Homo sapiens: one gene and its partners. The main gene of each other region encodes a partner of the protein of the gene in region 2 in a complex. Each region holds a gene or a part of one and is shown on either strand. Other genes may lie near its edges.

The links.
Region 1: PRPF8 (region 2) and PRPF3 share a complex: the UniProt entries of both Homo sapiens proteins name them as parts of the U4/U6-U5 tri-snRNP complex.
Region 3: PRPF8 (region 2) and LSM4 share a complex: the UniProt entries of both Homo sapiens proteins name them as parts of the U4/U6-U5 tri-snRNP complex.

What each region holds. Positions count from the first base shown.
Region 1 is NC_000001.11:150,331,391-150,335,038, forward strand, and holds part of PRPF3 (U4/U6 small nuclear ribonucleoprotein Prp3), read left to right. Parts: intron 1-1,293; coding exon 1,294-1,377; intron 1,378-1,588; coding exon 1,589-1,809; intron 1,810-3,544; coding exon 3,545-3,648. UniProt on the Homo sapiens protein: Plays a role in pre-mRNA splicing as component of the U4/U6-U5 tri-snRNP complex that is involved in spliceosome assembly, and as component of the precatalytic spliceosome (spliceosome B complex).
Region 2 is NC_000017.11:1,660,822-1,664,469, forward strand, and holds part of PRPF8 (pre-mRNA-processing-splicing factor 8), read right to left. Parts: intron 1,333-3,648; coding exon 1,085-1,332; intron 970-1,084; coding exon 790-969; intron 586-789; coding exon 450-585; intron 342-449; coding exon 172-341; intron 7-171; coding exon 1-6. UniProt on the Homo sapiens protein: Plays a role in pre-mRNA splicing as core component of precatalytic, catalytic and postcatalytic spliceosomal complexes, both of the predominant U2-type spliceosome and the minor U12-type spliceosome.
Region 3 is NC_000019.10:18,306,008-18,309,655, reverse strand, and holds the end of LSM4 (U6 snRNA-associated Sm-like protein LSm4), read left to right. Parts: intron 1-2,100; coding exon 2,101-2,192; 3' UTR 2,193-3,420; downstream 3,421-3,648. UniProt on the Homo sapiens protein: Plays a role in pre-mRNA splicing as component of the U4/U6-U5 tri-snRNP complex that is involved in spliceosome assembly, and as component of the precatalytic spliceosome (spliceosome B complex).

The DNA of each region.
Region 1 (3,648 bases), on a different chromosome or scaffold from region 2:
GTCTCCCCCTGTTGTCCAGGCTGGAGTGCAGTGGCATGATCTTGGCTCACTGTAACCTCCACCTTCTGGATTCAAGCGCTTCTCCTGCCTCAGCCTCCTGAGTAGCTGGCATTACAGGCGCCCACCACCACACCCGGCTAATTTTTGTATTTTTACTAGAGACGGTGTTTCACCATGTTAGCCAGGCTGGTCTTCAGCTCCTGACCTCAAGTGATTCGCCCACCTCAGCCTCTCAAAGTGCTGGGATTACAGGCGTGAGCCACCATGCCTGACCCTTCCGTAATTTTTGAATTTTGAATATATCACCTATTCAAGAAAAAATGTTAAAGACAAATGTTTAAAAATATCTTGAAGCAGTTTAAGAACAGGTCTGTTTTGCAAAATGTAAGAGGAGTTGTTTGGCCATACCCTCAAAGCTTATCATTCTGAACTTCTTTAGGACAGAAGGGGTTTATAGAGACTAGGGAGCAGGTCTTTGCACCATCGTCTCTTGTTTCCCAAACTAGTAGTTCAAGTACTAATATCATGATTTTTTAAAAAAAATTAAGTATAGGCTGGGTGCGGTGGCTCACACCTGTAATCCCAGCACTTTGAGAGGCCGAGGTGGGCGGATCACGAGGTCAGGAGATCGAGACCATCCTGGCTAACAGGGTGAAACCCCATCTCTACTAAAAATACAAAAAATTAGCCGGGCGTGGTGGTGGGCGCCTATAGTCCCAGCTACTCGGGATGCTGAGGCAGGAGAATGGCATGAACCCGGGAGGCAGAGCTTGCAGTGAGCCAAGATCGCACCACTGCACTCCAGCCTGAGTGACAGAGCGAGACTCCATCTCAAAAAAAAAAAAGAAAATTAAGTATAATATTTTGTGTAGGTTCTGTTAGGTTTGCATGCATTATTTAAGTGGTTAACACTAGACCTGTAAGGTAGGTACTGTTTTCTTCCCCCTTCTAGACACTTAGGAGGTTTAGAGACTAAGTTCCTTATCCAAGATAACAAAGGCATTAAGTGGCAGAGTTAAGATTCAAACTCAGGTTTCTCTGACTCCAGAGTCTCAATCATCACACTATATTACTACCTAATATGCTAATCTTGCTTTAGGAACATGGGTTGAAAAATTCCAGTGCTCACTTATCTTGACTAAATTTTTTGCACTGTGGTGCAGGCAGAATGTGGTATAGTCATTCAAAACATTTTAAGTGTCTAGACCTGAGAGCCTTGTGGGTTTAAAAACCTGAATGGGAGAAGTAAGAAGGAGAAATTAACAGTTTTTCAATTTTTTTCCTGGAGAGCAGATCAAACAGATGATGGAGGCAGCAACACGACAAATCGAGGAGAGGAAAAAACAGCTGAGCTTCATTAGCCCCCCTACACCTCAGGTATTGTGTCTAGATTACTCTGAACAGAATAATCTTTGGCACAGAATTTCTTGCCATCCACTCAAAATGAGAGACTAGAAGAGGTGACTACATGTTTCACTTCATAATCATCTGCTACAGTCTACCATGATGTGTGTGTATATCTGTGTGTATGTATGTGTGTTTGTCTGCCTGTCTTAATTCCTCTGATTTCTTTTTCTCTATCTCACAGCCAAAGACTCCTTCTTCCTCCCAACCAGAACGACTTCCTATTGGCAACACTATTCAGCCCTCCCAGGCTGCCACTTTCATGAATGATGCCATTGAGAAGGCAAGGAAAGCAGCTGAACTGCAAGCTCGAATCCAAGCCCAGCTGGCACTGAAGCCAGGACTCATCGGCAATGCCAACATGGTGGGCCTGGCTAATCTCCATGCCATGGGCATTGCTCCCCCGTGAGTGTCTATTTCATGGAATACCTTTTCATTTCTGAAGTTTGAGAAGCAATAAATACCTTTGAATGTTACTGATCTGGCTGGGCGCAGTGCCTCAGGCCTGTAATCGTAGCACTTTGGGAGGCTGAGGTAGGTGGATCACCTGAGGTCAGGAGTCAGGAGTTCGAGACCAGCCTGGCCAATATGGTGAAAACCCATCTCTACTAAAAATACAAAAATTAGCCAGGCGTGGTGGTGCATGCCTGTAATCCCAGCTACTCGGGAGGCTGAGGCAGGAGAATCGCTTGAACACAGGAGGCAGAGGTTGCAGTGAGCTGAGATCGTGCCACTGCGTGGGTGACAGAGGGAGACTCCGGCTCAAAGAAAACAACAAACAAAATATTACTGATCCTCTTTTTCCACAGAACCTAGATCATTTCTCACAGTTTCATATTTCTTAGGTGTGATTGATTAACCAGTTGAATTTTTTCTCGTCTTCCCTGTTGGAGGGTTTATTATCTTCTTATGATTTATATAACTGAGATTAAGGTTATTCATCTAATGTTGGAGCTAGGAGTATAGCCAGGTTTCCTTCCTGGTTTCAAACTCAGATTTATCCATTAAACCACATTGTGTGAGACTAGATCTGAGGTTCCTCTGCAACTGGTCAAAGATGTTACATTTTTTTTAGCATCTACAGTTGGTCTGGCATCCCATGAGTGACATAAGAATTCAGGGATAAGGAAAGATAGGATTATAAATTCATATAATTTATAAACTCATTTCATTTGGTTGTCCTGTATACTGAAATATCCACTTTGATATTTTTAATCAAGATACTATTGGCAGGGCGCGGTGGCTCACACCTGTAATCCCAGCACTTTGGGAGGCCGAGACTGGCAGATTGCTTGAGCTCAGGAGTTCAAGACCAGCCTAGGCAACATGGCAAAACCCCATCTCTCTAAAATATACAAAAATTAGCCAGGCATGGTAGAGCATGCGTGTAGTTCCAGCTACTTAGGAGGCTGAGGTGGGAGAATTTCTTTGGGCCTGGGAGGTTGAGGTTGCAATGAGCTGTGATTGTGCCACTGTACTTTAGCCTGGGCAGCAGAGTGAGACCATGTCTCAAAAAAAAAGATGGTATTGCTCACTGATGAGATTGTTCCCTAGAATTATTTTATTGTCCTTTTTGTTGTTGTTGTTGTTGAGAGGGAGTCTCACTCTGTCACCCAGGCTGGAGTGCAGTGATCTCGGCTCCCTGCAACCTCTGCCTCCCAGGTTCAGTAGCTGGGACTACAAGTGCCCGTCTAAATTTTGTATTTTTTGTAGAGATGGGGTTTCACTGTGTTGCCAAGGCTGGTCTTGAACTCCTGGGCTCAAGCCATCCACCCGCCTCAGCCTCCCAAAGTGCTGGGATTACAGTGTGAGCCACCACACCCGTCCATCCAAATAACTCTTATAGAGAAGGCACTGCAGCCTCAACTTCCTGGGCTCAAGTGATCCTCCTCAACCTCCTGAGTAGGTGGGACCACAGGTATATGCCACCGCACCCAGCTAATTTTAAATTTTTTGTTGAGATGCAGTCTCCTTGTGTTGGCCAGACTGGTCTTTAACTCCTGGGCTCAAGTGATCCCTCTGCCTTGGCCTCCCAAAATGCTGTGGTTCCAGGCTTGAGCCACCACGCCTGGCTTTATTTTGTTTTTTGCTTGCCTTAATGTTCCATACAGGATTTATTTCTTTGCGGGCTATTTTTCAGGAAGGTGGAGTTAAAAGACCAAACGAAACCTACACCACTGATCCTGGATGAGCAAGGGCGCACTGTAGATGCAACAGGCAAGGAGATTGAGCTGACACACCGCA
Region 2 (3,648 bases):
TTCTCCCTGGGGAGCAAGAGAAGCAGGTGAGGTGATATCCTGCCATTTCCCAGCACACTGCTAACCTCCTGGAGGTGGCTGTCTGGGAAACACCACAGGAAATCACAGAGGCATACAAGAGATGAGCTCAAAGGGTTGTGACAGGTCCCTCTAAGAGAGGAGAATCCTCACCAGAAAAGCCCCTCCCAGGTAGGGAAGTAAGTGCCCTTAAAGAGTGTGTGTTCCAGAATGCCTTCCACACCGCCCAGGGCCTGGATCATGTCTGTACGGTAGTTGTTCAGGTTCCAGAGCTTCCCATCATGCCGCTGGTGTGTCCACCAGAACGGATTCTGCTTCAAAACCTAGATGGCAAGGCAGGCACGGTCAAGCTTCTGGGTGCCTATTGCCCCAAGTTTCGGGGATAGCCATGGATTTTCCTGACTCAGGGAAAATCTGCTCCCTCTACATACCTGATACTGCTTAAAGTCAGTTCTGACACGCCAGCCCTTATCATAAGCCAGTGTGTGCCGGTCCTTCTGGAAGAGGGTATTGATTCGAGGAATGCCACGATCCCATGAATCTTCTAGGTCTTCTAAAGTCAGGCGTCTTCCAAAAAAAGAAAGATTCAAGTCAAAACGTGATCTCATATGAGGAGCTCAGCACTCCTTCCTGGCCAAAAATAATTAGGGTCAGTAGAACCAGCCTTCTCACCTCCATACAACCATGGCATGCTCTGACCCTGAACTCCACACGGTTCAAAGGCCACCACTGCCCCTGCCCCAGGGTTGGCATGCCCTCCTAGGTGCCCACCTGTTCTGAGCAATGGCCTCTTGCCTCTTGAGTGCGTACTCAGCCCAGACCCGCTGAGAATCAATGAACTCGCTCTCCCATGGCTGTATGTAGCGGTACAAGTTGGGAATGAGCTGGTCTTCTTCATGGCTCATTCCTGAACGAAAGTGTGTGATACCTACATCTGTCTGTTTGGACCACCTGTTTGGGTGTACAACCAAGATTACAGAAAAAATAAAGCCTAAAACTAAAGAAATACCCACTTCCCTTAGGGCCTGAGCAATAGGGTTTAGAAATACGTTGAACCAGGCTGTACCTGAGGTCGGATTGGGGGATGAGCACATGGCCCATTGAGAGCATGCCGAGTCCACCCAACTCCTTAGGGGTGTAGAACACAACCGGGGGGAACCGACTTGGCATCTTGGAGTTGAGTCCAATCTTGATACGTGTCTGGATTTTGTTCTCACACTTCACCAGTAAGTCCAAGAGCTCTTGGGTGTTCACCACAGCCTCCCGAAAGTATGTCATAAGGCCAATGAGAGCTGTATTCCACTTATTCACAATCTAAAGGTAGTAGAAAAAAAAGTAAATTACAGATGAGCCAGGGGCGGGGAGGGTGGAGACTACTTGATGCAGTTAGTTTTATCCCTACTACTAAAGAAAGATTTGAGTTCAACATCATTAGTCACTAGGGAAATAGAAAGCAAAACACAATGAGGCTGGGCGCGATGGCTCATGCCTATAATCCCAGCACTTTGGGAGGCCAAGGTGGGAGGACTGCTTGAGCCCGGGAGTTGGAGACCAGCCTGGCCAACATGGCAAAACCCTGTTTCTACTAAAAATACAAGAATTAGCCGGGTGTGGTGGCAGACGCCTGTAATCCCAGCTACTCAGAAGGCTGAGGCAAGAGAATCGCTTGAACCTGGGAGGTGGAGGTTGCAGTGAGCTGAGATTGTGCCACTGCATTCCAGCCTGGGCAACACAGCGAGACTCCATCTCAGGGGAAAAAAAAAAAAAAATGGTTCCCCTGGGCCAGGTGTGGTGGCTCACGCCTGTCATGCCAGCACTTTGGGAGGCCGAGGTGGGTGGATCACCTGAGGTCAGGAGTTCAAGACCAGCCTGGCCAACATGAAACCGTCTCTACTAAAAATACAGAAATTGAACCCAGGAGGCAGAGGTTGCAGTGAGCTGAGATCGCACCACTGCACTCCAGCCTGGGAGACAGAGCAAGACTGTGTCTCAAAAAAAAAAAAAAGAAAAGAAAAAGAAAAAAAAAAGCACACCAGATGGAGCTATACAAACTAGTGAAGAACACCAGAAATGGTAAGTATGTGGGTAAAATGCAAAAAAATATTTTTTCTCATTTTGCAATTTCTACAAAAGATAAAGGCTGTTCAAAGCAAAAAGAGTAACAAAGTATTATAGCACTTATAATACATGTACAATTAAAATGTTATGACAAAAATACTACTAAGAGTGGGAGTGGAACTTAAAGTGTATTATTCTAAGGTTCTTGTACTATATGTGAAGTGATCCGTAGTAGACTAATGGTCAAAGTAGATCACAGTAAGTGAGCTATGTATATACTGTAAACCTTAGAGCAAACAATAAGAAAAAAACCATGTAGCCAAATAAGTGAAAAGTGGAGATAAAGTCACAAAACAACTAAATTCAGAAGAAGGCAGGACAAGAGAAAAGCAGAAAAAATAATTTAAAAAAAAAAGAGTAAGACGGTAGATTTAAACTGAGCTACATTGCCACATTGATAGTTACATTAACCTTAATTGAGGTATTTAGACCATTTGTAAGGCAAACATTGTCAAATTGGATTTAAATAAAAAGGCCGGGCATGGTGGCTCACACCTGTAATCCCAGCACTCTGGGAGGCTGAGGCGGGCCTCGGGGTCAGGAGTTCGAAACCAGCCTGGACAGCATGGTGAGACCCCCCGTCTCTACTAAAAATACAAAAATTAGCTGAGCGTGGTGGCACGCGCCTGTAGTCTCAGTTTCTTGGGAGGCTGAGGTAGAAGAATCGCTTGAACTCGGGAGGCAGAGGTTGCACTGAGCCAAGATCATGCCACTGCACTCCAGCCTGGGCAACCAAGGAAGAGACTCCATCTCAAAAAAAAAAAAAAAAAAAAAAAAAAAAAGAGCCAACTATATGCTGTCTATAGGAAATAAACTTTAGTTACAAAGACACAGATTAACAGTAAAAAGATGGAAAAATACACCCATGCAAACACAAAACAAAGCTGGAGTGGCACTACTGATTAAGACAAAGACTTCAGACCATGGAATGTTATCAGGAATACAGAGGGATATTTGATACGATAAAGTAGTCAACTCGTTCAGAAGACCTAATAATCCTAAATACATTATGTAACTAATAACAGAATTTCAAAAATGATGGACCTGAAAGACAATAAACTCACAGCTGTAGTTGGATCTTTCTCTCAAGCAAGACAGGGTCTTGCTCTGTTGCCCAGGCTAGAGTGCAATGGCACCATCTCCACTCATTGCAGCCTCCACCTCCCAGGCTCAGGAGACTCTCCCGCCTCAGCCTCCCAAGCACCTGGGACTACAGGCGTGTACCACCACACCCAGCTAATTTTTGTATTTTTTTTGTAGAAATGGGGTTTCGCTATGTTGCCCAGGCTGGTCTCGAACTCCTGTGCTCAAGCAATCCACCAGCCTCAGCCTCCCAAACTGCTGGGATTACTAGAGATTTCTAATACTCCTCAGTAATCGATAGAAGTATACAAAAAATATCACTAAGGATATAGAAGACTTAAGCAATGTAACCAACTGACTGGACCTAATGTTTGTAAAACACTCAACCTAACAATAGCAGAATACAGATTAACAGATATTTTCCAGCAC
Region 3 (3,648 bases), on a different chromosome or scaffold from region 2:
ACGTACCTGGGGCGGGAAGACAGCCACACGTGGCATCCCTCCTTCTTGGGGTTGCCCTTGCAGCGCTGCCTCGGAGCCTCCCAACCCTCCCGGGCCCCCCTCCTGGTCCTTGGCCATGAGCCGAGGCCCAGGCAGAGGAGCCCCGAGACCTGGGACTCAGCCCTCCTCTCACTGCGCCTCCTGGCGGTCCTCAGGGCACATCAAGTCACCTCCCCAAGCCTCAGTTTCCCCTCTGAGAGGGTATGGTGGTGCCCATCTGTCCAGGCCGCTGGCAACTCCACTTGGAACCTGGCGTGGCTCTATCCAGAGCCAAGGTCGCCCGCCCCCACCGGAGATGATGAATTGGCATAAAATTCCATTTGTTAGGCCCAGGGGCCATCTGTAGCCCCTGCCCTTCCTCACCTCTCTGTCCCCAGCTCTGTGTTCTCGGGGGGACCTGGGCTTTGCTTCTGCCATCCATGGGCACTGCCTGTGTGCTGGGCTCAGGTGCCAGCCTGGGGGCTTGCAGCACGGCATGGCTGCCCCCGGAAGGCCCCAGGCGCCAATTCTGTGCAGGCTCACGAGGTGGTCAGGAGTGAGCCCGAGGGAGGGGCAGGGATAGTACTCCAGGCAGGGAGCTTTGGGGATCTCAGGGTGGGTGGGGCCTCTGGGGTCCCCGGCCTGGCTCCTTCCCAGTAGTTGGGGTCAAGGTTGTTGAGAGAGTGGGTCGGGTCCTACCTAGGGAAGTGGGGGGTTTTCTCTGGCTGCTCTGCAGGAAGCCACTGGGCCATGGAGTGCAGATAGCAGCCTCGCAGTAACCCCCACCAGGCTGTGCACCCTAGCACAGCTGGTCCTGCCTGGTGAGAGGGGAGGTTGGTGGCCCAGGCCAGCGTTGGCCTCTGGCCTCTGTCCCCACAGGGCCTGGTGGCCCCTGGCTGGTGAGAGCCCTGACCTCTTAGATCCTCTGAATCTGGACCCCTGACCCCACCTTCACGGGGTTGAGGTCTGCAGAGTAGACCGTGATTCCAGTTCCTGTTGGGGTCAGTCCTCCTGTCCCCAGACCTCCCTGGCCCACGACTGAGCCTCCCAGCGGGCTCTGTGGAGGGCCTGAGCTATGCTGCCTGCAGCGCTGGCCTCTGGCCCCTGGCACCCAGCACATGGGCCACAGGGCCAGCTCCTCTTGCTGGCCTTGGCTCTCCTGCTGTTTGAAGCTCCAGCTTTGATTTCCTCAAGCGTTCGTCCAGCTAGAAAGTTCTCTGAAACGGCTCCCTAAACGGGGCTTACAGAGCTGGGGTCCCCAAGGGAGACAGAGAGGGAGGGATCAATGTTGGGTCCCGGCCTGACCAACCTGCTGCGTCCAGGCCTGGCCTGTGGTGAGGGTGGCGTGAAGGGGCGCCAGGCACACAGAGGGTGTGGGGACAGGCGTGCCCTGCGTGCAGCCTGCTCAGGATTACTGGAGGTGCCGCTGTAGCGTCCACTCAGTCCCTGGGGCCCTCATCTCCCGGGAACCCCCTGTCACCTCCCCAGTGGCCACATGCTCCCACCTCAGGGGCTTCATGGAAAATGTCATTTGTCCTCATGGTCTATCTCTGGCCTCAGGCCTGCTGGGGAGTCCCCTCCCCTTCCCCATCCCTGGGGCTGGATACACAGAAATCCCTCTTTCTGTTTTCCTCCTGGCAGGTAGATGAGGGGCTGTGGGTGGTTGTGGCGCATAGGAGGCCCCCCCCCCGCCAGGGAGCCCCCAGCCTGGCCTACTGCCCTGGTCTCTGCTCCACGCCTCTCCTACCTCCTCCTCCTCCTCCAGGAAACCCTTCTGGCTTTGTCCTTTAGGAAGCCTGCCCCAACCCCCAATGTGACTTAGTGTCCTCTGTCGCCTAGTCCCCCCCCCCCGCATCCCTGGGGGCTGGGTCTAGTCCCATAATGAGGATGCCCTGGAGTTCCTGCCTTCCTCAGATGCTCTGCCCCACGGAGGAGATCCAAGCACCCTCAGTCACCACCTCACACATGAGGAAGCTGAGGCTGGAGACTTAGGTGACCTGGCCTAGAGTTTCAGGGCGCCGGGATCCTGTCGAAGGTCCCACCCACCTGGCTCTGCTGCAGCGCCCTCTCTCTGTCCTCTAGGTGTGTTTGGTGGCCGGGGCCGAGGTGGGATCCCGGGCACAGGCAGAGGCCAGCCAGAGAAGAAGCCTGGCAGACAGGCGGGCAAACAGTGAGCGCCCACCCAGACCGGCTGCTGCGCCCCCTCCTGCCAGGGTGGCGATTCCGCTCCACAGTCTCGGACGGATCTGCTCAGAAAGGAAGAGGCAGGCGCCAGGGGGAACCCCCTTCGTGTTTTGTGACCCTCCCTTTTAGGTGAAGCCCCTTTTTCTTGCTAAAACCGGCAATTCTCCGGTTAGAAATGTTACTTGGTGTTTTTTGGTTTTGTGAAACGGCCGTCCCAAAACTGGCTGGATTCCTAGAAGAGTCTGTGTTGAAGGCATCTTTCAAGCCCTCGCTCTGGTTCTCAGGGCAGCATTTTCCAGGCGGGTTTGTTTTGCATTTCTTGGAGCCTCTCCGAGCAGCAACCAGACGGGAGATTTTTATTTTAAGCTGTTCATGCTGGGACTGACAGCCTGCAGGGTTTCCTTGGGCGCGGCCCCAAAATTGCCTTCAAAACAAACCCGGGACGGTTGAAAGCCTTCGAACCGTGCAGGGGATGCCTCGGGCCCTGGCCCTTCGCTTCCTCTCTTGTGTTATGGAAATAAAAACAAATAAAACTACACACTGCACATCCACTGTTCCTTTTGAGCTTCTGGGTGCACCTAGCGGGTCTCCTGCCCTCTGTCCATCGCTGGACTCTCAGGAAATCCCCGTTCCCGTAAGGGAAGCTTCCTTTTGAGAGTTCTCACCAGGTGTCAGCGGCACAGTGAGGCACTGATGTCCTTTTACAAAAGGCAAGACCAGCATCTGGACAGTGGGGGCTCTTGAGAGTCCCCGGCGCCCCCCACACCAGGTTGTCCTATAACCCTCTCCCCTCTGTGGAGACGTTAATGCCAAGGGGTGTGTGGGGAGGGAAGTCCCAGGCAGGGGCCACGCATGGTCCCCATCACCCCCTCCTGGGTGGCCTGGACTCCATCATCTATCCTCATCTGTCCACACTGGCGTTCACACAGAGAAGACAGGACAGGAATCCCCTCGGAAGATGCTCATGGAAGATTCTCACGAGGCTCCTGCCCCCTTTCTGAGCCAGGCCGGGTTTGCCACTCCTCGGGCGCGCACCTGAGACACTGAGTCAGCGCTTTCGAGAAAGGCTCCGGGTAGCATCTGTGGACCGTGAAGAAACCAGAGGGAAGCCCTGAGCCAGGCAGCGGCCCGTCCCCCTGCATAGCCTTCTCTTCAGGGTCCTCGTTCGGAGACCTATTTTGAGAGGTGATTGGAATAAAAGGTCCCGTCCGTGAGGAACTCTTTTTCTTGAGTCTTCAGAGTTACTTGCCATCGTATAGATTTTGCATTTACAATGTCCTCGCCTGGGATGTTCTCCTTGTGTGTGGGGTGGGGGACAGGGATGGATATCTGCAGTCGCCTGAATCCTCTCCGCCACAGCGGCACTTGATTGATGGTTAGAGATGGGGCATGTGGGGTCCAGGATGTGGCCTGCCCTGAACCTCACAAACCCGCCCCCTCAACACA